Linked DNA regions of Homo sapiens. The main gene of each other region encodes a partner of the protein of the gene in region 3 in a complex. Each region holds a gene or a part of one and is shown on either strand. Other genes may lie near its edges.

The links. The genes of interacting proteins can lie anywhere in the genome.
Region 1: BUD13 (region 3) and DHX16 share a complex: the UniProt entries of both Homo sapiens proteins name them as parts of the minor spliceosome.
Region 2: BUD13 (region 3) and PPIL2 share a complex: the UniProt entries of both Homo sapiens proteins name them as parts of the minor spliceosome.
Region 4: BUD13 (region 3) and SNRNP40 share a complex: the UniProt entries of both Homo sapiens proteins name them as parts of the minor spliceosome.

The regions. Positions count from the first base shown.
Region 1 is NC_000006.12:30,658,819-30,664,034, forward strand, and holds part of DHX16 (pre-mRNA-splicing factor ATP-dependent RNA helicase DHX16), read right to left. Parts: intron 4,204-5,216; coding exon 4,093-4,203; intron 3,925-4,092; coding exon 3,809-3,924; intron 3,614-3,808; exon of another isoform or gene 3,039-3,613; coding exon of another isoform or gene 2,938-3,038; intron 1,800-2,937; exon of another isoform or gene 1,752-1,799; intron 1,425-1,751; coding exon 1,214-1,424; intron 1,017-1,213; coding exon 918-1,016; intron 807-917; coding exon 654-806; intron 1-653. UniProt on the Homo sapiens protein: Required for pre-mRNA splicing as a component of the spliceosome. Contributes to pre-mRNA splicing after spliceosome formation and prior to the first transesterification reaction.
Region 2 is NC_000022.11:21,674,984-21,680,199, reverse strand, and holds part of PPIL2 (RING-type E3 ubiquitin-protein ligase PPIL2), read right to left. Parts: intron 5,137-5,216; coding exon 5,085-5,136; intron 1-5,084. UniProt on the Homo sapiens protein: Has a ubiquitin-protein ligase activity acting as an E3 ubiquitin protein ligase or as an ubiquitin-ubiquitin ligase promoting elongation of ubiquitin chains on substrates.
Region 3 is NC_000011.10:116,757,772-116,762,987, forward strand, and holds part of BUD13 (BUD13 homolog), read right to left. Parts: coding exon 4,782-5,216; intron 3,182-4,781; coding exon 2,964-3,181; intron 1,409-2,963; coding exon 1,303-1,408; intron 637-1,302; coding exon 498-636; intron 180-497; coding exon 1-179. UniProt on the Homo sapiens protein: Involved in pre-mRNA splicing as component of the activated spliceosome. As a component of the minor spliceosome, involved in the splicing of U12-type introns in pre-mRNAs.
Region 4 is NC_000001.11:31,279,101-31,284,316, forward strand, and holds part of SNRNP40 (U5 small nuclear ribonucleoprotein 40 kDa protein), read right to left. Parts: intron 2,397-5,216; coding exon 2,274-2,396; intron 1-2,273. UniProt on the Homo sapiens protein: Required for pre-mRNA splicing as component of the activated spliceosome. Component of the U5 small nuclear ribonucleoprotein (snRNP) complex and the U4/U6-U5 tri-snRNP complex, building blocks of the spliceosome.

The sequences.
Region 1 (5,216 bases), on a different chromosome or scaffold from region 3:
CTCCCACTAAGCCTACTAGCTCACACTCTGACCTCAAACATACCTTGGGCCTTCCTCTGATGACTTCTCAGCCATTTTTCTTTTTTGAGATGGAGTCTCGCATTGTCACCCAGGCTGGAGTGCAGTGGCACAATCTCAGCTCACTGCAACCTCCTCCTCCTGGGTTCAAGCGATTCTCATGACTCAGCCTCCTAAACAGGTGGGATTATAGGCGCACGCCACCATGCCCTGCTGATTTTTGTATTTTCAGTGGAGGCAGGGTTTCACCACGTTAGGCAGCCTGGTTTCGAACTACTGACCTCAAGTGATCCGCCCACCTCAGCCTCCGAAAGTCCTGGGATTACAGGCGTGAGCCACCGCACCTGACCTCAGACATTTCTCTTAAAGGTCCATATCAAATCCCACCTCTTAGCACATCAAGGACTTCCCTTCTCCACTGAATCTACTGTGCATACTTTCCAGATCACATATTTGGCTCTCTCTTGGTTCACACCATATTTCTCCTCTCTTCAGTCCCAGGAACAAGGGACTGGCTGCTCCTCAGCTGTGTGCAGCAGTGCGCAGGACTCACCTTGCATGGGGCAGGCACACAGCTTTTTCACTACTAGTTGTGGGAAGCATAGGGGTGAAGAGTGTGGGTTTCTCCAACTGACCTTTCGTGCCCCAGGTGGTGTGGGCTGGAAGATACGGGCCTGCATGTCAGAGGGCAGATTGGCATAAATGGGCAGCACCAGGAGCTCCCGGATTTTGGAGCCCAGGCGGCGGCAGCGATCCTGGAGCATCTCACAGGCAGCCTCAATCTCCTCCTGGATAGAGGGTAGGGAGAGCAGCAGGGGTCCCAGAGTCACAGAAGGCCAACATGCCGGCCCTGTCTTCCCCTGGGATACATCATCCCCTCTCCCCACCATGTCAGGCACCTGTCCTGTCAGGAACACCAGGATATCCCCAGGGGGCTGGGTCACATGGATCTGCAACACAGATACTACACAAGCTTCCAAGTAGTCAGCCTCTGGAGCCTGGAGAGCAGAAAGAGATGGGGTCACAGGAGGGCCACCTGCTTAGGCAAACCTTTCCTCTCCTCCCAATTCAACATACACTTTATCCTAGTTCCCCTTTGAACCTTCCATTCCATCTTTCCCTCCACAGGATAACCTTCTCCAAAGGCCTCAGCTTTTCTGCCACAGACTTAAGCCCATCCTCCCTGAGGGGGCACCTTGGTGTAGAAGATGTCCACAGGAAACCTGCGTCCGGGGATTCGAAACACAGGGGCGTCATCAAAGAAGGTGGAAAAACGGGCAGTGTCCATTGTGGCTGAAGCCACCAGGACCTTGAGCTCAGGTCGGAAGCGAGCAACATCCTTGATCAATCCAAAGAGAATGTCTGTGTGTAGGGTCCTTTCGTGTGCCTCATCCACCATCACCACGCTGGGGAGGGAATAGGAGAGCAATGAGGGAAGAGCGCTAGGCAATGCAGTATCAGACACCAGAGTTAACTGGATGAGAGGGGAGTAATGGACACAAAGAGTTCAAGAATGACTGTTGACGGAGGGGGCTCTAAGGAGAAGTCAGCCATCCCACTTATGTAGAGCAACAGAAAGTCAGAGAAGGCCAGGGCCCCATGATCTGCAACCTATCCCAGCCTCAGCAGATAATAGGAGACAAGATGTAGAGGCTGCACACTGAGGCCAGGACAAGTTAGCCATACCCTCTAGTTCAGTCAAGAGTCTGCTTAGACTCAGCAGCTGCTCTTACTAGAAAAAGTTGAAGGATATGTTTTAGGCTGGGCATGGTGGTAGCTCACGCCTGTAATCCCAGCACCTTGGGAGGCCGAGGCAGGTGGATCACAAGGTCAGGAGTTCGAGACCAGTCTGGCCAATACAGTGAAACCCCGTCTCTTCTAAAAATACAAAAAAAATTAGCCAGATGTGGTGGTAGACGCCTGTAGTCCCAGCTACTTGGGAGGCTGAGGCAGGAGAATCGCTTGAACCTGGGAGGCAGAGGTTGCAGTGAGCCAAGATCGTGCCACTGCACTCCAGCCTGGGTGACAGAGCGAGACTCCATCTAAAAAAAGAAAAAAGAAAAAGTGGAAGGATTTTTTTTTTGAGACAGTCTTGCTCTGTTGCAGGCTGGAGTGTAGTGGCATGATCTCAGCTCACTGCAAGCTCCGCCTCCTGGGTTCACACCATTCTCCTGCCTCAGCCTCCCAAGTAGCTGGGACTACAGGTGCCTGCCACTGTGCCTGGCTAATTTTTTGTATTTTTAGTAGAGACGGAGTTTTGAAACAGAGTCTCACTCTGTCGCCCAGGCTGGAGTACAGTGGCACGATCTCGGCTCACCGCAAGCTCCGCCTCCTGGGTTGCGTTCACGCCATTCTCCTGCCTCAGCCTCCTGAGTAGCTGGGACTACAGGTGCCCGCCACCACGCCCAGCTAATTTTTTATATTTTTTAGTAGAGACGGGGTTTCACCGTGTTAGCCAGGATGGTCTTGATCTCCTTACCTCGTGATCCGCCTGCCTCTGCCTCCCAAAGTGCTGGGATTACAGGCGTGAGCCACCGCTCCCGGCTGATACGTTTTAAAGGAAAAAAAAAGTGGAAGGCAGGGTCCCTTTCAATAAGGGTGGGCCAGCAAGGCTGACTGGGGGTAATAGACCTGAGCTGCTGTGATTCAAATAGCCTAGAAGCTCCTGGTGTCCTGTGGGACAACTGCTGCTGGCATCATTCTTGACTGTTTCTTCTTTTGGAGACAGGAGCAAGTTAAGCCTTTCTACCTCAACTCTCACAGGACTCTGCATGCTCCTTGGTTTCCTCCTAACTCAGTTATGTGCATGACACCTTCTTTCTCTTTGTTCTTTGGCTTTTCTGGGTGGCAGCCAAGTCCCAGGAACTCATCCCCATCTTCCCCTACCCACCTCCCTGACCTCAACTCTTTGTGCCTAACCCTAACTGTGATGGTGAAGTCCCCAGCCATTCCACAAAGCAGGCTGGCTCGATGGGCAAAAACATCTGCATCAGACACTCTTGCGCTGGCTGGCTCTCCATGGGTTCTTAGAGATCTTTTGCAAGGGATATGAAGGATAAAATCCTATCTGTCCAATTGCTCCACTGTGATCTTCCAAGACCAGAAATTCACAGCCTCTGAAGAGTCAAAAAGGCACATATTGTTCAGCTGGCCTGACCCCACCCCCATTACATTCATGAATCCCTTTTCCCCCTCAACACATGTTCAACCAACCCCTGCTTGGCCATTTCCAGCACTAAGAGCTCATTATTCACAGACCAAGCTACCCAAGACTTGTGTGGAGGGCCAAGACCCAGAGTCCAACCACTCTGACAGGCCCTGCAATCTCCACCACTCTGAGGGTTACTCAGCCATTGGTATTGAGTTGGAATCTGTCTCCCTGTAACCTCCCCATGGCTCCTAGCTATGTCGTGTAGGGTCACATAAAACAATCTGATCCTTCTTTCCATGTAACAGCCTTCACATATTTAGAGGGAACCAGGATGCTTCCTGTTTCTCCCTCTGAGCTGAGCATTCCAAGTGTTTTCAAATGGTCTTCACACGGTATTTCAAGTCTCGGCAGCAATGCTCTGCTATCCTGGTTGTTTTCTAAACCCTGGAGATGAATGGGGAAAGAAGAGGCTTTCTCTACAATCTCTTCTGTCCTCCAGCCCCATCTCCGTGGTACCTGGAGGTCAGTTCAAGGACCATTTGAACCACAAAGATTCAAGAACGGGTGGATTAATCAGAAGACAATGGCTGAATTGGCTGGGTGGGAAGAAGGGAGAGAAAGGCCAGAGATTAGAGATACCTGTAACTCGCCAGGTCAGGCTCAGAGAGGAACTCCCGGAGAAGCATCCCATCTGTCATGTAGCGGAGGACAGTTCGCTCTGATGTGCAGTCCTCAAAGCGGATGCTGTAGCCAACCTGGTCAAGGGAACCATTAGCAACCAAGTGTGGGCTGGTGTGCCCTGAAAGGAACTTGGGGAAAGGTGAAGTGGGGCAGCACCAAGACTTCTGCTGTAGGGACCTGAGGGAACTGTAGACTGAGTCACAGACCCCAGACTCTACCCCCCGGTTCCCTAGAAATCTCACCTCATTCCCAAGCTTCACACCCATCTCCCGGGCCACTCGGGCGGCCACACTCATGGCAGCCACTCTCCGGGGTTGGGTGCAGGCAATCTTCATACCCTTGTTTGTATAACCCTGAATGACAAAGAAAAAAGAAGAAGTTTGCCCTTTACTAAATATGCACCCTGGGACCAGGTACATTTCAGAGAAAGAAGTTGTAAAAACCAGGCAGGAGAAAAGGAGGAAAAGACAGATGCTGAAAACCAGAAAAGAAGGGCAAATAGATAGGATGACAGACCTAGGGCCCTCAAAGGGGGTCCTCACCCAGCTCTGGGTAATTAAGTTCATGACTCTGCTAGACTTGAGCTGGAAAAGAACAGATTAGCTGAGACAGAGCCAGCTAAGGTAAAAAAGCAGGAAGGCTGGGCACAGTGGCTCATGCCTGTAATCCTAGTACTTTGGGAGGCTGAGGTGGGAGGATGGCTTGAGCTCAGGAGTTCGAGACCAGCCTGGGCAACATAGTGTGACAAAAAAATTAAAAATTCAAAATTTTGACCAGGCACAGTGGCTCACACCTGCAATTCCAGCACTTTGGGAGGCCGAGGCAGACGGATCTCCTGAGGTTGGGAGTTCGAGACCAGCCTGGCCAAAATGGTGAAACCCCGTCTACTAAAAATACAAAAAATTAGCCGAGCATGGTGGTGCATGCCTGTATTTCCAGCTACTTGGGAGGCTGAGGCAGGAGAGTCGCTTGAACCTGGGAGACAGAGGTTGCAGTAAGCCAAGATCATGCCACCGCACTCCAGCCTGGGCAACAGAGCAAGACTCTGTCTCAAAAAAAAAAAAAAAAAAATTTCAGGCCAGGCACAGTGGCTAACACCTGTAACTCCAGCACTTTGGGAGGCTGAGGTGGGCAGATCACGAGGTCAGGAGATTGAGACCATCCTGGCCAACATGGTGAAACCCCATCTCTACTAAAAATACAAAAATTAGCTGGGTGTGGTGGTACGCACCTGTAGTCCCAGCTACTTAGGAGGCTGAGGCAGGAGAATCACTTGAACCCAGGAGGTGGAGGTTGCAGTGAGTCAAGATCGCGCCACTGCACTCCAGCCTGGTGACAGAGCAAGACTCCACCTCAAAAAAAAACA
Region 2 (5,216 bases), on a different chromosome or scaffold from region 3:
GGCCCTGTCAAAGTGCCCACTTCTGGGGATAAAAAAGTAAGTGCAGTAGGGGGACTCAGAAACATCAACCACATGTATTTGTGGGGACTTTTTCTTTTTTTTTTTTTTTGAGACAGAGTCTTGCCGTTGCCCAGGCTGCAGTGCAGTGGCATGATCTCCTCGGCTCACTGCAAGCTCCGCCTCCCGGGTTCACGCCATTCTCCTGCCTCAGCCTCCTGAGTAGCTGGGACCTACAGGCGCCCGCCACCATGCCCGGCTAATTTTTTGTATTTTTTTAGTAGAGACGGGGTTTCACCGTGTTAGCCAGGATGGTCTCGATCTCCTGATCTCGTGATCTGCCCACCTTGGCCTCCCAAAGTGCTGGGATTACAGGCGTGAGCCACCGCACCTGGCCTTGTGGGGACTTTTTCTTAAAAAAAATCCTGATTTGAGGCCAAGTTAGAGCCTCAAATTAGTTAGAGCCTCAAGTTAGAGGTGGCTCACACCTCTAGTCCCAGTGCTTTGGGAGGCCAAGGTGGGAGGATTGCTTGAGGTCAGGAGTTTGAGACCAGCCTAGGCGATAGGCTGAGACCCCGTTTTTTTGTTTTGTTTTGTTTTTTGAGACAGGGTCTAGCTCTATCACCCAGGCTGGAATGCAGTGGCGCAATCACAGCTCACGCAGTCTCAACTTCCCAAGCTCCAATAATCCTCCCACCTCAGCCTCCCAAGTAGCTGGGACTACAGGTGTGCTCAACCACACTGGCTAATTTTTAGGTTTCATTTTGTAGAGACAAGGTTTCATTATGTTGCCCAGGCTGGTCTTGAACTCCTGGGCTCAAGCAATCCTCCCACCTTGGCCTCCCAAAGTGCTGAGATTGCAGGCGTAAACCATGGTGCCCAGCTGTTTTTTTTTGGTGGGGGGATGCTGACGCGGGAGGATCACTTGAGCCCAGGACTTCAAGACCAGCCTGGGTGACATAGGGAAACCTCATCTCTACAAAAATAAAAATTAAAAAAGTAGCTGGGGCTGGGCGCGGTGGCTCACACCTGTAATCCCAGCACTTTCGGAGGCAGAGGCGGGAGGATCACCTGAGGTCGGGAGTTTGAGACCAGCCTGACCAACATGGAGAAACCCCGTCTCTACTAAAAATACAAAATTAGCCAGGTGTGGTGGCACATGCCTGTAATCCCAGCCACTCGGGAGGCTGAGCCAGGAGAATCGCTTGAACCCAAGAGGCGGAGGTTGCAGTGAGCCGAGATCACGCCATTGCACTCCAGCCTGGGGAACAAGAGCGAAACTCCATCTCAAAAAAAAAAAAAAAAAAAATTGGCTGGGCATGGTAGTACATGCCTGTGGTCCCATCTACTTGGGAGACTGAGGTGGAAGGAGCACTTGGTCCTGGAAGGTCGAAGCAACAGTGCGCTCTGATCATGCCACTACACTCCAGCCTGGGCAACAGGGCAAGACCATGTCTCAAAAACAAACAAACAAACAAAAATCCTTCTGATGTGAAAACTGTTTTTTAAATTGGGGCTTCAGCATCATGCAAGGGGGTACTGGTGGGAGCAAAGACAGAACTGCACAGATGGGAGACAGCAGGGGCTGGAGTTGATGATGGGCACAGGGGAGGCGTATCACACCTCCTCACTCCACTTTCACGCACGGGGAATTCCAATTAACAAAGAAACAGGTGGGGCGCAGTGGCTCACGCCTGTAATCCCAGCACTTTGGGAGGCTGAGGCAGGTGGATCACTTGAGCCCAGGAGTTCGAGACCAGCCTGGCCAACATGGTGAAACCCCGTCTCTACAAAAAACACAAAAACTAGCTGGGTGCAGTGGTGGTGCCTGTAGTCCCAGCTACTTGGGAGGCTGAGGTGGGAGGATCTCTTGAGCCCAGGAGGCAGAGGTTGCAGTGAGCTGAGACTGTGCCACTGCATTCCAGCCTGGGTGACAGAGACCTCATTTCAAAAGAAAAAAGGAAACACAACAAAAGAAGCTGACTGCCAGGTCAAAGTTTTAAAAGAAAAAAAAAGGCTGGACCTCATTCCTCCCTCAGTGGCTCTCATCTTGGAGCGGAAGCCCAAGTCCTCCTGTGGCTCCCAGGCCCCACAGGACTGCTCTGCACACCATCCCCACCCCTGACCTCTGTCACCACATCCCCTGCTTCCACCGCTAGCACACGCTGTTCCAGCCACATTGGACTCCCAGCTGGGCACAGACACCCTTGAGCGTGCGCCCACCTCAGGGTCTTTGCACTGGCTGTGCCATCAGCCTGGCCCTGCACTCCCCCGATGCCCACACGGCTCTCCCTCCCTGCAGCGGGTCAGGGCGGCCCTCTCCCCTCCCCCTGCTGTGCTCTACACACACAAGCAGCCTCTGGCACACCCTGCTGAGCTGCTCTCTGGTGTTCTCCCCCACCAGAATGCATGCTCCTCTCATTCAGGAGAGACACAGCCTGTTGTGCTCTCTGCACATGGCAGGCACTCAATAAATATTTGCTGTCCCTCCCTCTCCCTCTCCCGCTCCCGCTCCCCAGGGTCTCCCTCTGATGCCGAGCCAAAGCTGGACTGTACTGCTGCCATCTCGGCTCACTGCAACCTCCCTGCGTGATTCTCCTGCCTCAGCCTGCCGAGTGCCTGGGATTGCAGGCGCGCGCCGCCACGCCTGACTGGTTTTCGTATTTTTTGGGTGGAGACGGGGTTTCGCTGTGTTGGCCAGGCTGGTCTCCAGCTCCTAACCGCGAGTGACCTGCCAGCCTCGGCCTCCCGAGGTGCCGGGATTGCAGACGGAGTCTCGTTCACTCAGTGCTCAATGTTGCCCAGGCTGGAGTGCAGTGGCGTGATCTCGGCTAGCTACAACCTCCACCTCCCAGCCGCCTGCCTTGGCCTCCCAAAGTGCCGAGATTGCAGCCTCTGCCCGGCCGCCACCCTGTCTGGGATGTGAGGAGCGTCTCTGCCCAGCCACCCATCGTCTGGGATGTGAGGAGCGCCTCTGCCTGGCTGCAACCCCATCTGGGAGGTGAGGAGTGTCTCTGCCTGGCCGCCCCGTCTGAGAAGTGAGGAGCCCCTCCGCCCGGCAGCCGCCCCGTCTGAGAAGCGAGGAGCCCCTCTGCCCGGCAGCCGCCCTGTCTAGGAAGTGAGGAGCGTCTCCGCCCGGCAGCCGCCCCGTCCGGGAGGGAGGTGGGGGGCAGCCCCCGCCCGGCCAGCCGCCCCGTCCAAGAGGGAGGTGGGGGGCAGCCCCCGCCTGGCCGCCGCCCCGTCCGGGAGGTAGGGGCGCCTCTGCCCGGCCGCCCCTTCTGGGAAGTGAGGAGCCCCTCTGCCCGGCTGCCACCCCATCTGGGAGGTGTACCCAACAGCTCATTGAGAACAGGCCATGATGACGATGGTGGTTTTGTCGAATAGAAAAGGGGGAAATGTGGGGAAAAGATACAGAAATCAGATTGTTGCTGTGTCTGTGTAGAAACAAGTAGACATAGGAGACTCCATTTTGTTCTGTACTAAGAAAAATTCTGCCTTGGGATGCTGTTGATCTATGACCTTACCCCCAACCCTGTGCTCTCTGAAACATGTGCGGTGTTCACTCAGGGTTAAATGGATTAAGGGCGGTGCAAGATGTGCTTTGTTAAACAGATGCTTGAAGGCAGCATGCTAGTTAAGAGTCATCACCACTCCCTAATCTCAAGTACCCAGGGACACAAACACTGCAGAAGGCCGCAGGGTCCTCTGCCTAGGAAAACCAGAGACCTCTGTTCACTTGTTTATCTGCTGATCTTCCCTCCACTATTGTCCTATGACCCTGCCAAATCCCCCTCTGTGAGAAACACCCAAGAATGATCAATAAAAAAAAAAAGAGGTTTGGAGAAATAAAAAATAAACAATAACACACACACACACACACACACACACACACAAAATAAATAAATAAATATTTGCTGAATGAGACACACACACACACACACACACACACACACACACACTGCTGATCACAGGAGGGGAGGCAGCCCACCCTCGGCCACCAGGGTGGAGCGCCGTGTCCTCCACCGACGTCAATGACGTGCTGAGGTTCACCCATTCATTCACCTGCGAATGCTGCACCGACTGGGGACCGGGCTCTGGGCTCAGACAAGCGGGGCAAAAGGGCCTTGGCCTCAGGTGCTACAGCATCTCCCTGGAATGCATGCACCCAGTAAGCAAGGACAACCCCTAAGCCATAGCATCTCCACAGGCAAAAGACCTGGACTAGAACCTAGCACAAGATCACCACCTGGGCAGGGGTGGGCTGCACAACTCATCCGGGCCTCTGGCCACAAGAACAGCGGAAGGTGTGTAATGGGCATGAAGCAGGAGCCGCAGCACTGGGCTGGGCTCTATGAGCTGTGGCAAAGAAAAGCCTAGCCCAAGAGCTACTGGACAAATCCCTCCAGACCACCCACATCCCCTACTCAGCTGCCGCCTTGGTTCCCAGCATGAGCAACTTCTGCCTCCAACAACAAACAGACCACAGCCTCAGCCAGAGGGGGCCCATGCCCTGCAGATCCAACTGTGCCCACAAAGGCCACTAGCAGCTTACAATGGCCTGATCGCCTTTGTGGGAAGTTCCCAACACCACAGGTTCTGCCCCCAACCTCCCCCACCTTAAAACTACCCAGACCTTTGAGAAGAAATCTTGTGACACCTTTTTTTTTTGAGACAGAGTCTCGCTCTGTTGCCAGGCTGGAGTGCAGTGGCACCATCTTGGCTCACTGCAACCTCTGCCTCCTGGGTTCAAGTGATTCTCCTGCCTCAGCCTCCCGAGTAGCTGGGACTACAGGCGCCCGCCACCATGCCCGGCTAATTTTTGTATTTTTAGTAGAAACGGGGTTTTACCATGTTGGCCAGGATGGTCTCAATCTCTTGACCTCGTGAACCATCCGCCTCGGCCTCCCAAACTGCTGGGTTTACAGGTGTGAGCCACCGTGCCCAGCCCTGTGACACTTTTTGCGGAATTAAAAGCAGGTGTCTAGCTTGGTCAGAAAGCAATGACTGATTCCGTATGAAAACTGGTGAGAGCTGGGCCCTTGGGTCTGCAGGTCAAGCCCAGAATTGGCTGTGATAGTTCCACTCACCCTCACTGTTCTTGGAAAAGTTCAGCTTGATCAGGGACCTCCCGTCCAGCTTCTGGAAGAAGCACAGTTAATAATTAATGATAATGAATAAGTAACTGATGCACAGAGATGCTAGGGTCAGAGACAGGCAGG
Region 3 (5,216 bases):
TATTCTTGTTCTCCTTGGCCTTATTCTTCTTGATGAAGTTGGCCATAGGGTCCCCCTCTCTTTCCTGTTCTCTTAGCATCCTATCCAGATCTTCGTCATCAATATAGCGGGCCAGAGGCTTTTGCATCTCTTTCATTGCATCCTCCACATTTTGTTGCTGTTGCCGGCTCTGGGCAAGCCTGGGCAAAAAGGAACCAAGAGTGTTTGCTATCCTGTATGACATTTCCACTTCTACACGAGATGGACCATACTGCTAAGTTTGGACAATCTCCTCTTTCTAGTACCCTAGGGCAAATACTGAGCAGGGTAAAATTCCCAGAATACCCACTAGAAGCGTGGAATATATCAATATCCTAGGAAGAAGATTCAGCACACCAAATTTCCCATTACTGATAACAGCTCTGAAGGCATAATAAGAAAGTGAGTGATCAGAAGAGCAGAGAAATGACTTGTTCCAGTCACTGCCATCTTGTTTACCCTTTCAGTGGTTCCCTTACCCTTTTCCCCACTGGGCATACAGCTCATCTCTCTCTGAGTCCTTTTCTGCTTTCCTCCTTTGCTCTAAACGTTCGAGTTTCAAATTCCTCTTACGACCAGACTTATCTCGAAATACGGTTTCAGCATATTGAAATTCAGCTGCAAAGGAAAATTATACTCAAATATCAGGATCAAAATCAGAAATAACATTCTAAGAGATCAAATCAACCGCTTGGGATTCTAATGCTAGATAAGAACTTCTGCAGCCAGACCAAAGTAGTTCCTACCAACATCTTGGTGCATATTGGCACTGGGCCCAAGAAATGGCATTTTCCTTTTTTTTTTTTTTTTTTTTTTGAGATGGAGTCTCACTCTGTTGCCCAGGTTGGAGTGCAGTGGCGCGATCTTGGCTCACTGCAACCTCCACCTCCCAGGTTCAAGCGATTCTCCTGTCTCAGCCTCCTGAGTAGCTGGGATTACAGGCATGCAACACCATGCCTGGCTAGTTTTTTTTTGTATTTTTGGTAGAGACAGGGTTTCATCATGTTAGCCAGGCTGGTCTTGAACTACAGACCTCAGCTGATCCACCCGCCTCGGCCTACCAAAGTGCTGGGATTACAAGCATGAGCCACCGCGCCTGGGCGAAATGGCATTTTTCAAGAAGGAAAGAAGCACTGGGATTCACTGAGAAATTACAACAATGCATAAAACCAGAGCTGAAATTTGATAGCAATTAAAAGTTCAAAATATCAGGTACAATAAGCTAAATTAAAAAAAAAAAAACAGTATGAGCCTAAATTGGTCTCTGCACTTTCATATTTTTACCTTCAAATGCCATGGTTTCTTGATCCTGTTCCTTGAGCTCCTGCTGTTCTCGCTGTATGTCAGTTAACACCAACCCAGTTTTAGCCCCAGAATACATGTGTGCAGCCTATGCAACGGAAAAGGGAGCATCCAACATTAATGAGATGATGTGACAGTAGGCTCCATGGGTACACAGTTAGTTGCATTTGTGTCTAATGACCAGCAATAATTAAACCTAAAACTCTAGCTTTATATTCTCAATAATTACCATAGGATTCAAAAACTATAAAAGAAAACCATCATCAAAACCATCAAGTTTAAGAATAAGCAGAAACACTAACAATATATTAAATGGAGGGCTACGCATTTGTATTTCTGACTTTTCAGTATATAAACTGCACACATGAAGACTATCTCAGGTCATCTGATCAGAAACCAGTATAAAGCACTAAGCCTTCCATTAGAGACCCATACTGATAAAATATTCCATTTACAGTACAAACTCAAGCAAACCTAAGATCCTTAAATTGTGGATATATTTCATGGTAATAACAGAAGATCTAACAAATGAAAACTTTTTGCTAATTTCCACTTAGCATCAAGATAGCAAATCAGCCCACGAATGAAGCACACAGTATATCTTGATATCCTTCAGCAACGAAATTGGAATAATATTAAGTTGTCCATGAACTAAATGGATATATAAAATGCCAAGAGGTCCAGCTGAAACAGAGACCTCTTTTTTCCCTAAAAAAGAAGAATCTCACTTCCTGGGTAAAGAACAGGCTGGTCTACCCTGCCAGGACCAGTCTTCTCAGAGTCTTCTACAGACAAGATTTACCTGATAAGTCTGCACTGGGGAGAAAAATGCACATCACAGGCTCTATCATTCTGTTTCTTAACCACTTACAAATAAGATTCCTTTACTACTACCAATGTTCTTTACAATATAATTACTCAAGGTTCATATGGATTTTGGGGTTTTTTGGCTAATTCATCAAGCCTTATCATGAATTTAAAACAAACCATTGACTTCTCAGACAACATGATTTCTAAAAGTGGTTTCATATTTTAAGTGCCTCTCCTTAAGCTCTGGATACAGAGACCTATAGTCCAATTTATACTAGTAAATCACTAACACTAGATGCTTACTTTGTCCCAGACACTGTGCTAAGAGTTTTACTTACACTGGCTTAATTATCATAACAACCTTACACAGTAGGTACTACTATTATCCACAATTTACAGATAAAGAAACTGAGGTTTAGAGATATTAAGCATCTTGCCCAAATCTCACAGACAGTAAGTGGCAGAAGGAGAATTTCTGTATGTGATCCGTTTGACACAATGCTTGTGCTCCAAACTTCACTCTGCAAATTACAGTCCTCGGTTTATTCCTAAGAAAATAGGAAGTTTTTCTAGACCTGTTAAAATGAGATTGTAGAATTAAGAGGCTATAAACGCAGAAGCTACTTGGGAAATCTGGTATCTGTAAGTCCATCTGGGATGGGTTATAGCCAGTTTGCCTTCAGAAGGAAAGACCTCCAAAGGTCCTTTTAACTAAGATTTACTACACTTCTCAGAGCTACATCCTTCTTCTTGGCTTGATTCTCTGGGACATATATAAAGCTGAGAGAGAAGAGTCACACGAAAAGAAGGACATGGCTCCTGAAAATCCTGACCTTCTTTCCAGGAGGCTGACTCCTTCGAGGCGGGGACAGGTCAGAATCAGAAGATTTGGTCCTCTGTCTCCTCCTTGGTGGAGAGAGGTCAGAATCAGAGCTCCGGTGTCTAGGTCTATTCCGTGGAGGTGACAGATCTGAATCAGAATCCTGGTGCCCTGGACTTTGTTTATGCCGTGGAGAAGAAAGGTCTGAATCAGTTGCTTTCTGGCAGTCACCTGGATAGGAGCAAAGAATCTGTGTGACTCTGATGTCCTCTAGGTGAAGAACTTACATGAAATCTCCTATGGCTGGGAGAAGAACCTAGAAATTAAAGAATTCCTTACATTATTATTATTTTTTTTTTTTTGAGACAGTCTCAGGCTGGAGTGCAGTGGCATGATCTCAGCTCACTGCAACCTCCGCCTCCTGGGTTCAAGCAATTATTGTGCCTCAGCCTCCCAAGTAGCTGGAATTACAGGTGTGTGCCACCACGCCCAGCTAATTTTTGTGTTTTTAGTAGAGATGGGGTTTCGCTATGTTGGCCAGGCTGGTCTTGAACTCCTGACCTGAGGTGATCTGCCCACCTCGGCCTCCAAAGTGCTGGGATTATAGGCTTGAGCCACCATGCCTGGCCAAAGAGTTCTTTAATCCCCTTGGAAGAATCTAAAAAGATAACTTACCAAGCTAATGTACAATATTTATTTAGTTTTCCTATGAAGAATTATCATTAACCTAAACATAAGTATGGATGGCACAGGAGAAGAGCAAAGTCAGAAACAACTTTTAAGACCAACAGGTAGAATATGGCATTCTATTCCCAAGTGACCACTGACTGTAACTGGTGTGTAAAATCTCCACACACTCCTCTATGTCAGTAACCCCACCCATGGAAAGACAAAATAACTTGTAGTCAGCTCTCCATAGTGTGGCAAAAGTCAGAAATACCTGGAATATAGTCTGATATCCTTGGACTAAAGGATAACAAAGTACTTTAATTTTAAAATTAAAATAGTTCCTAGGAACAAAAGAGGGAGTAAAAAATTTCACTGCACAGGCCTAAGTTCTAGCGACTGTATAAGCATCACAAGTCACCTCCCAAAGGGCATTCTGCAATATGTATCGACAGTCTTTAAAACGCCCACATCTTCTGACCCAGTACATCAACTTCTCAGCTTTCTAGGAAACTTATATAGAAGTAGTTGAATTTCGAGGAAATCTATCTAGAAGTAGATAAGGAAATAATCCAAAATGGGGACAACAGTTTATGTACAAGGATGTTCATTATAGAATTACAGAAGAAAAAACTTAGAAATAACCAAAAACATTCATTATTAGGAAAATGGTTAAATTTGTAATTAAACACTATTAAAAATTATACTAACATAAAGATGTTTTATGGCCTGAGGAAGACTACGTTAAGAAAGGACAGCAGGCAAGATTGCACATGCAATACAAATGTTCTACACAGCCAGAGCTCAACTATATAAAAAATGCAAACCAAAAAAGACTAAGATGACCCTGGCCACAACACTAACAATAATTGCCTCTGAATGACAGAATTTTGTGTCACATTTTATCTTTATATACTTCTGTACATTCCAAAGCTTCTGCAACAAATAAATTGTACTTTTATATGGGGTGGAGCGAGCACATAAAAAGACATATGAAAACCTTCCTCCCTGCCACCATAATTGTTCAACTCTCCCAAACCCAGCCTCTCACTTTTCAAAACTTTCCCAAAGAAATTCCATTCTTATACCTAATAAATCAACTAAACGGCCAAAAGAAAGCTCCCAGGGATACATACATCCCTCTCATGGACAGTCATATGCTCACCTTTGGAATCAAGCTGCTTCTTGTCTCCAAAATGGGATTTTGCTTGCTTTTTTCGTGGAGGAGAGATGTCAGGGTCATACTCATATTTGCTGTTCTTTGGGAATGACAAATGGGAGGCTCCTGACTCCTTCCAATGTGGAGAAGTCTTGCTAGAGGCTCTTTCTGGGGCTTTACCACTTTTGGTTCTGGGCAGGGAATAAGTGACATTAGGAGCCAAATCAGGGGAGTCATGACGGGCCCTTCTGAGTTGCTGTGTGTCTGAAGAGCCAAGAGTCCTCCTAGATGTGTCAGGGGAGTTGTTATGGACCCTTCTGGGGGAAGAGATATCTGAGGAACCATGACGGGCTCGCCTAGGAGGAGAGGGATCTGGTGAATCATGACGGACTCTCCTAGGAGATGCACCTGAAGAATTATGCTGAGGCCTCCTTGGGGGAG
Region 4 (5,216 bases), on a different chromosome or scaffold from region 3:
CTGAAGACAGTGAGTGCAGAAAAATCTCCAGGGTATTCCTCTAAGTATTAAGAGTATAATTCTAGAATGAAACTCTGGGATTTGAACTGAGGTTCCATCACGTATTAGCTGTGTAACCTGGGTTTAAGCTGTTGTGCCTCTTTTAGCTCAGTTTCCTCATCTGTACAATCGCATCAGTAGGATTTATTTCATGAGGTTGTAAGGTCAAAGTCTTTAAGATCCGTGAGGAGGTCAATAGCAAAGCTTAAATGAATTAATGATGTAAAGCTCTGAGAACAACAACTGGCAGAAAGTAAGCACTATGTGTTAGATAATGATGATAACAATATTATCACCACCACCATCATCATCCTTTTTAAGAAGTTTTGGGCCAGGCATGGTGGCTCATGCCTGTAATCCCACTTTGGGAGGCCAAGGCGGGTGGATCACCTGAGGTCAGGAGTTCGAGACCAGCCTGACCAACACAGAGAAACCCTGTCTCTACCAAAAATACAAAATTAGCCAGGCATGGTGGCACACGCCTGTAGTCCCAGCTACTCAGGAGGCTGAGGCAAGAGAATTGCTTGAACCCAGGAGGCAGAAGTTGCAGTGAGCCAAGATCACGCCACTGCATTCAAGTCTGGGCGACAGAGTGAGACTCTGTCTCAAAAAAAAGAAAAGTAGAAAAGAAGAGGTTGAAAGAAGTGACGAAGGATTGAAACCCTCACATTTAAAGGACTACCTTTAGGCCGGGCACGGTGGCTCACACCCGTAATCCCAGCACTTTGGGAGGCCGAGGCAGGTGGATCACAAGGTCAGGAGTTCGAGATAAGCCTGCCCAACATGGTGAAACCCTGTCTCTACTAAAAAATACAAAAATTAGCTGGGCATGGTGGCACGTGCCTGTAATCCCAGCTACTCAGGAGGCTGAGGCAGGAGAATTGCTTGAACTGGGACCCAGGAGGCAGAGGTTGCAGTGAGCTGAGATAGCACCACTGCACTCCAGCCTGGGCTACAGAGGAAGACTCTGACTCAAAAAAAAAAAAAAAAAAAAAGGACTACCTTTAGACAAAAGCAAGGATATTCCTTTCTTTTTTTTTTTGGAGATGGAGTCTTGCTCCGTGGCCAGGCTGGAGTGCAGTGGCGTGATCTCAGCTCACCGCAACTTCTGACTCCCAGGTTCAAGTAATCTCCTGCCTTAGCCTCCTGAGTAGCTGGGATTACAGGCACACCACCATCACATCCAGCTAATTTTTGTATTTTCAGTAGAGACGAGGTTTCACCACATTGGCCAGGACGGTCTCGGTCTCCTGACCTTGTGATCCACCCGCCTCGGCCTCCCAAAGTGCAGGGATTTCAGGTGTGAGCCACCACACCTGGCCAAAAGCAAGGATATTTCATCCAAAGTAACAGCAAAGGAAACAATGAGGGATGGAAATACAGTACAACTTCTAGGTAAGGACAACACAGAAAGTTGAGTATCTGACAGTTACTCTTCTTACTATAAAGCAGAAGGTAAGGTCAAAGTCGTTAAGATCCCCAAGGAAGCCAAGAGGAAAGGAAGACAGAAGCTGTGCAGGCCCAAAATAATACATTTCCTGGCACTTGTTATGTCCAGGAATTCTGCTAAGTGCTCTAATGAATCAGGCTCATTTAATCCCCACAATGGTATGTGGTAGATGCTACTGTTTTTTTTTTTTTTTATCATTACCCCCTCACCATTCACACAAGAAAAAGAGGCTTAAAGAAGGTGCTTGAAGTCACAAAACTAGAAAATGGTGAAACTGGGATTAGAACCCAAGTCAATTACTTGAAAGTTTGAGCTACACTCTACTGCCATATGGTCTATTGCCTCTTTAATATCATTACCTTCTCTCATTCTTAGAGAAACTTAGAAAACTCTCTTTCCATAGTGTCAAAAAGAAAAACACAGTGAGAGATGAGGATACAGAATCACAAACTGATTCACTGCTCTCTTTAAACCAAGATGGTTAAAAAAAGATTTTGAATGTCTTTAAAAGGAAATGCACTCTTTATTTTTTACATAGTCCCCCTACAGAGACTTCACACTTCACATTAAGTGCCTGGTCCCTGACAGCATTTATAAGATCTGCAATGCAAACTTTAATTTAGGAAGTCAATGAAGACAGGAGAAAAAGAAAATAAGTTCCAAGTTACTATTTTCCTTTCAGTTGGTATTAAGTGCAAAGCTACCACAATCTCAGAAGTTTGAAAAAATTCGTTTCTAAGTGCAGATAGATGAAATGGAAATATATCATAAACATCAAACATACCTTGATATCATTGTCTATTCCACCAGAAATAATCTGATCACTTGTGTCATTGAAGGTCACAGCTAACACCTGGTACGTGTTCTGAAATGTCTGGATGGCTGCTTTCTTCCGGATGTCCCAAAGCTGAAGCAAAGGACAAGACAGTCTATCAGCAACATCATTCTAAGAAGCAATTGCACAGTACAAATATCCCTTAAGTACGAGGACTTTGTGGACATGAACACATCTATAATTGGGATCCTATATCACTAACTCCTGGATATCCTAATAACACACATGGTAAGCAGTGTGCTCAATTTTGCCAAGACATTTGAAGGCTGGTGAAACAAAACTTCGGTTATATTTTCAGACTTCTTTGTTGAAGTGAACAGAGTTAAATCAACATACTCTTAGAATGGAATTCCCCTAACTACTTAGTTCATATATTTTTTAGAACAACAAGGATATCAGACAATTTTTTCAAACCGTAGAGACTAATTCATTAGTAGGCTGCAACCCACATTTAAAAAAATAGAGGGTATGTCAGTGAAAATAGTATAATAAACAATGACAAAAGCTTGTCCCTCCACGAAAGCAGCAAATTAACCAGCAAAATCTGTCAGAATCAACTGTTGGAACTCTCAAAACTAATCAAAAGTTTATAGTAACCCGGCAAACCCTTAATGAGGAAAAAGGAAACAAAAAACTCCCTGAGTCCCAGTAAAAGGGCTTTGTAGTGTTTTAACTTGTGCTGGCTCTGTCTCCTGCTCAGCAACAGCTTTGAAGATAACCCATATTCCCAGTATGGTTTCCTAGTACTGAGGAAGCAAAGGGGGCCTATTTCTTATTGTCAAAGAATAAACAATAAAAATTGTTTATTTTTACCTGTCTGGTGGCTCTCTGAAGGATGAGCCCAAAGGACTTACATTTATTTTGCCTAACTTGGAACTTCCCTTGAAAACATTTAAAGGAAAGGACATTATTAGCCTCTGGTTCCTGGGGGCAAGGAAAAACAGTTGGGGCAAAAATACAAACCAAAAACCTTGGGAGGAAGGGCTGGGGAAGGAGACAATTTGGGGAATAAGAGCTTCGAAAAGCACCGACATATTCCTGGCTATCTATCTATCTATGTATCTATCTATCTATCTATCTATCTATCTATCTATCTATCTAATCTGGGGACACACTCTCCCTCTGTCGCCTAGGCTATCTATCTATCTATCTATCTATCTATCTATCTATCTATCTATCTATCTATCTATCTTTCTATCATCTATATCTATCTATCTATGTATCTATGTGTCTATCTATCTATCTAATCTCTATCTATCTATCTATCTAGGGACAGACTCTCCCTCTGTCACCCAGGCCGGAGTGCGGTGGTGCGATCTTGGCTCACTGCAACCTCCACCTCACGGGCTCAAGCAATTCTCATGTCTCAGCCTCCCGAGTAGGTGGGATTACAGGCGTGTGCCACTATGCCCAGCTAATTTTTGTATTTTTAGTAGAGACAGGGTTTCGCCACGTTGACCAGGCTGGTCTCAAACTCCTGGCCTCAAGTGATCTGTCTGCCTCACCCTCCCAAAGTGCTAAGATTACAGGCATGAGCCACCACGCCTGGCCCATTCCTGGCAATCTAGACCACTTGCATGTCCAGGGCTGGGCACATACTTAGAAAAGATCTGAGAAGGCCGTAAGCTCTCTGGTTCACCTTCAGGCTCTGCACAAGCAGGAAGTGAAAGCTAAGGAGAGATGTAAACTGCATGGCAAGGAGTTGAAGGCAGGCTCCAACATACAAAAAGACAATCTGCAAAGACTGGGAGAATTTTTGTTCTTGTTGTTGTAGGTAATTTAGGAAACTTGTGTCATTCACTAGCTGACCACTAAGCTAACGAAAAAAAGAATTCAGTGGTCACACAGGACAAAGAATACAAACTTTACAAAATTAGTTCAAAAATTCACTAAACAGGCCGGGCATGGTGGCTTACACCTGTAATCCCAGCATTTTGGGAGGCCGAGGTGGATGGATCACTTGAGGTCAGGAGTTCAAGACCAGCGTGGCTAACATGGTAAAACCTTGTTTCTACTAAAAATACAAAAATTAGCTGGTCATGGTGGTGTGCCCCTGTAACCCCAGCTACTCAGGAAGCTGAGGTGCAAGAATCACTTGAACCCGGGGAGTGGAGGTTGCAGTGAGCCAAGATCGCACTACTGCACTCCAGCCTGGGCTACAGAGCGAGACTTCGTCTCAAAAACCAACCAACCAACCACTCTCACCTTACCCCAACCCACAGAAAGTCACTAAACAAACAACTACAATAAGCAGCTCTGGGGACCTAATTTCCAGAGTCACCACGCTATAATATTTAAATGCCTAGTTTTCAACAAAATATAAGGCATGCAAAGAAGCAAGTAACTATGGTCCATATAGAAGGAAAAAGTAGTCTTCTCAACAAATTGTGCTAAGACAACTGGCTAACCACATGCCAAAGAATGAAGGTAAGCCCCTGCCTAACATGATACACAAAAATTAATTCAACATGGATCAAGGACCTAAATGTAAGAGCTAAAACTATAAAATTCTTAGAGGGCCAGGTATGGTGGCTCATGCCTGTAACCCCAGCACTTTCGGAGGCCGAGGCCAGGAGGATGGCTTTAGCCCAGAGTTAGCGACCAGCCTGAGCAACATGGTGATTCCTCATCTCTACAAAATAAAAACAAAAAGTTGGGTGTGGTGGTATATGCCTATAGTCCCAGCTACTTGGGAGGCTGAGATGGGAGGATCGCTTGGGCCAGAGAGGTTGAGGCTGCAGTGAGCCGTGATTGCGGATCTGTACTCCAGCCTGGGTGAGAGTGGCGGCATCTCGGCTCACTGCAACCTCTGCTTCCGTGTTCCAGCAATTCTCCTGCTTTAGCCTCCTGGATAGCTGGGATTACAGGCATGCGCCACCACGCCCAGCTAAT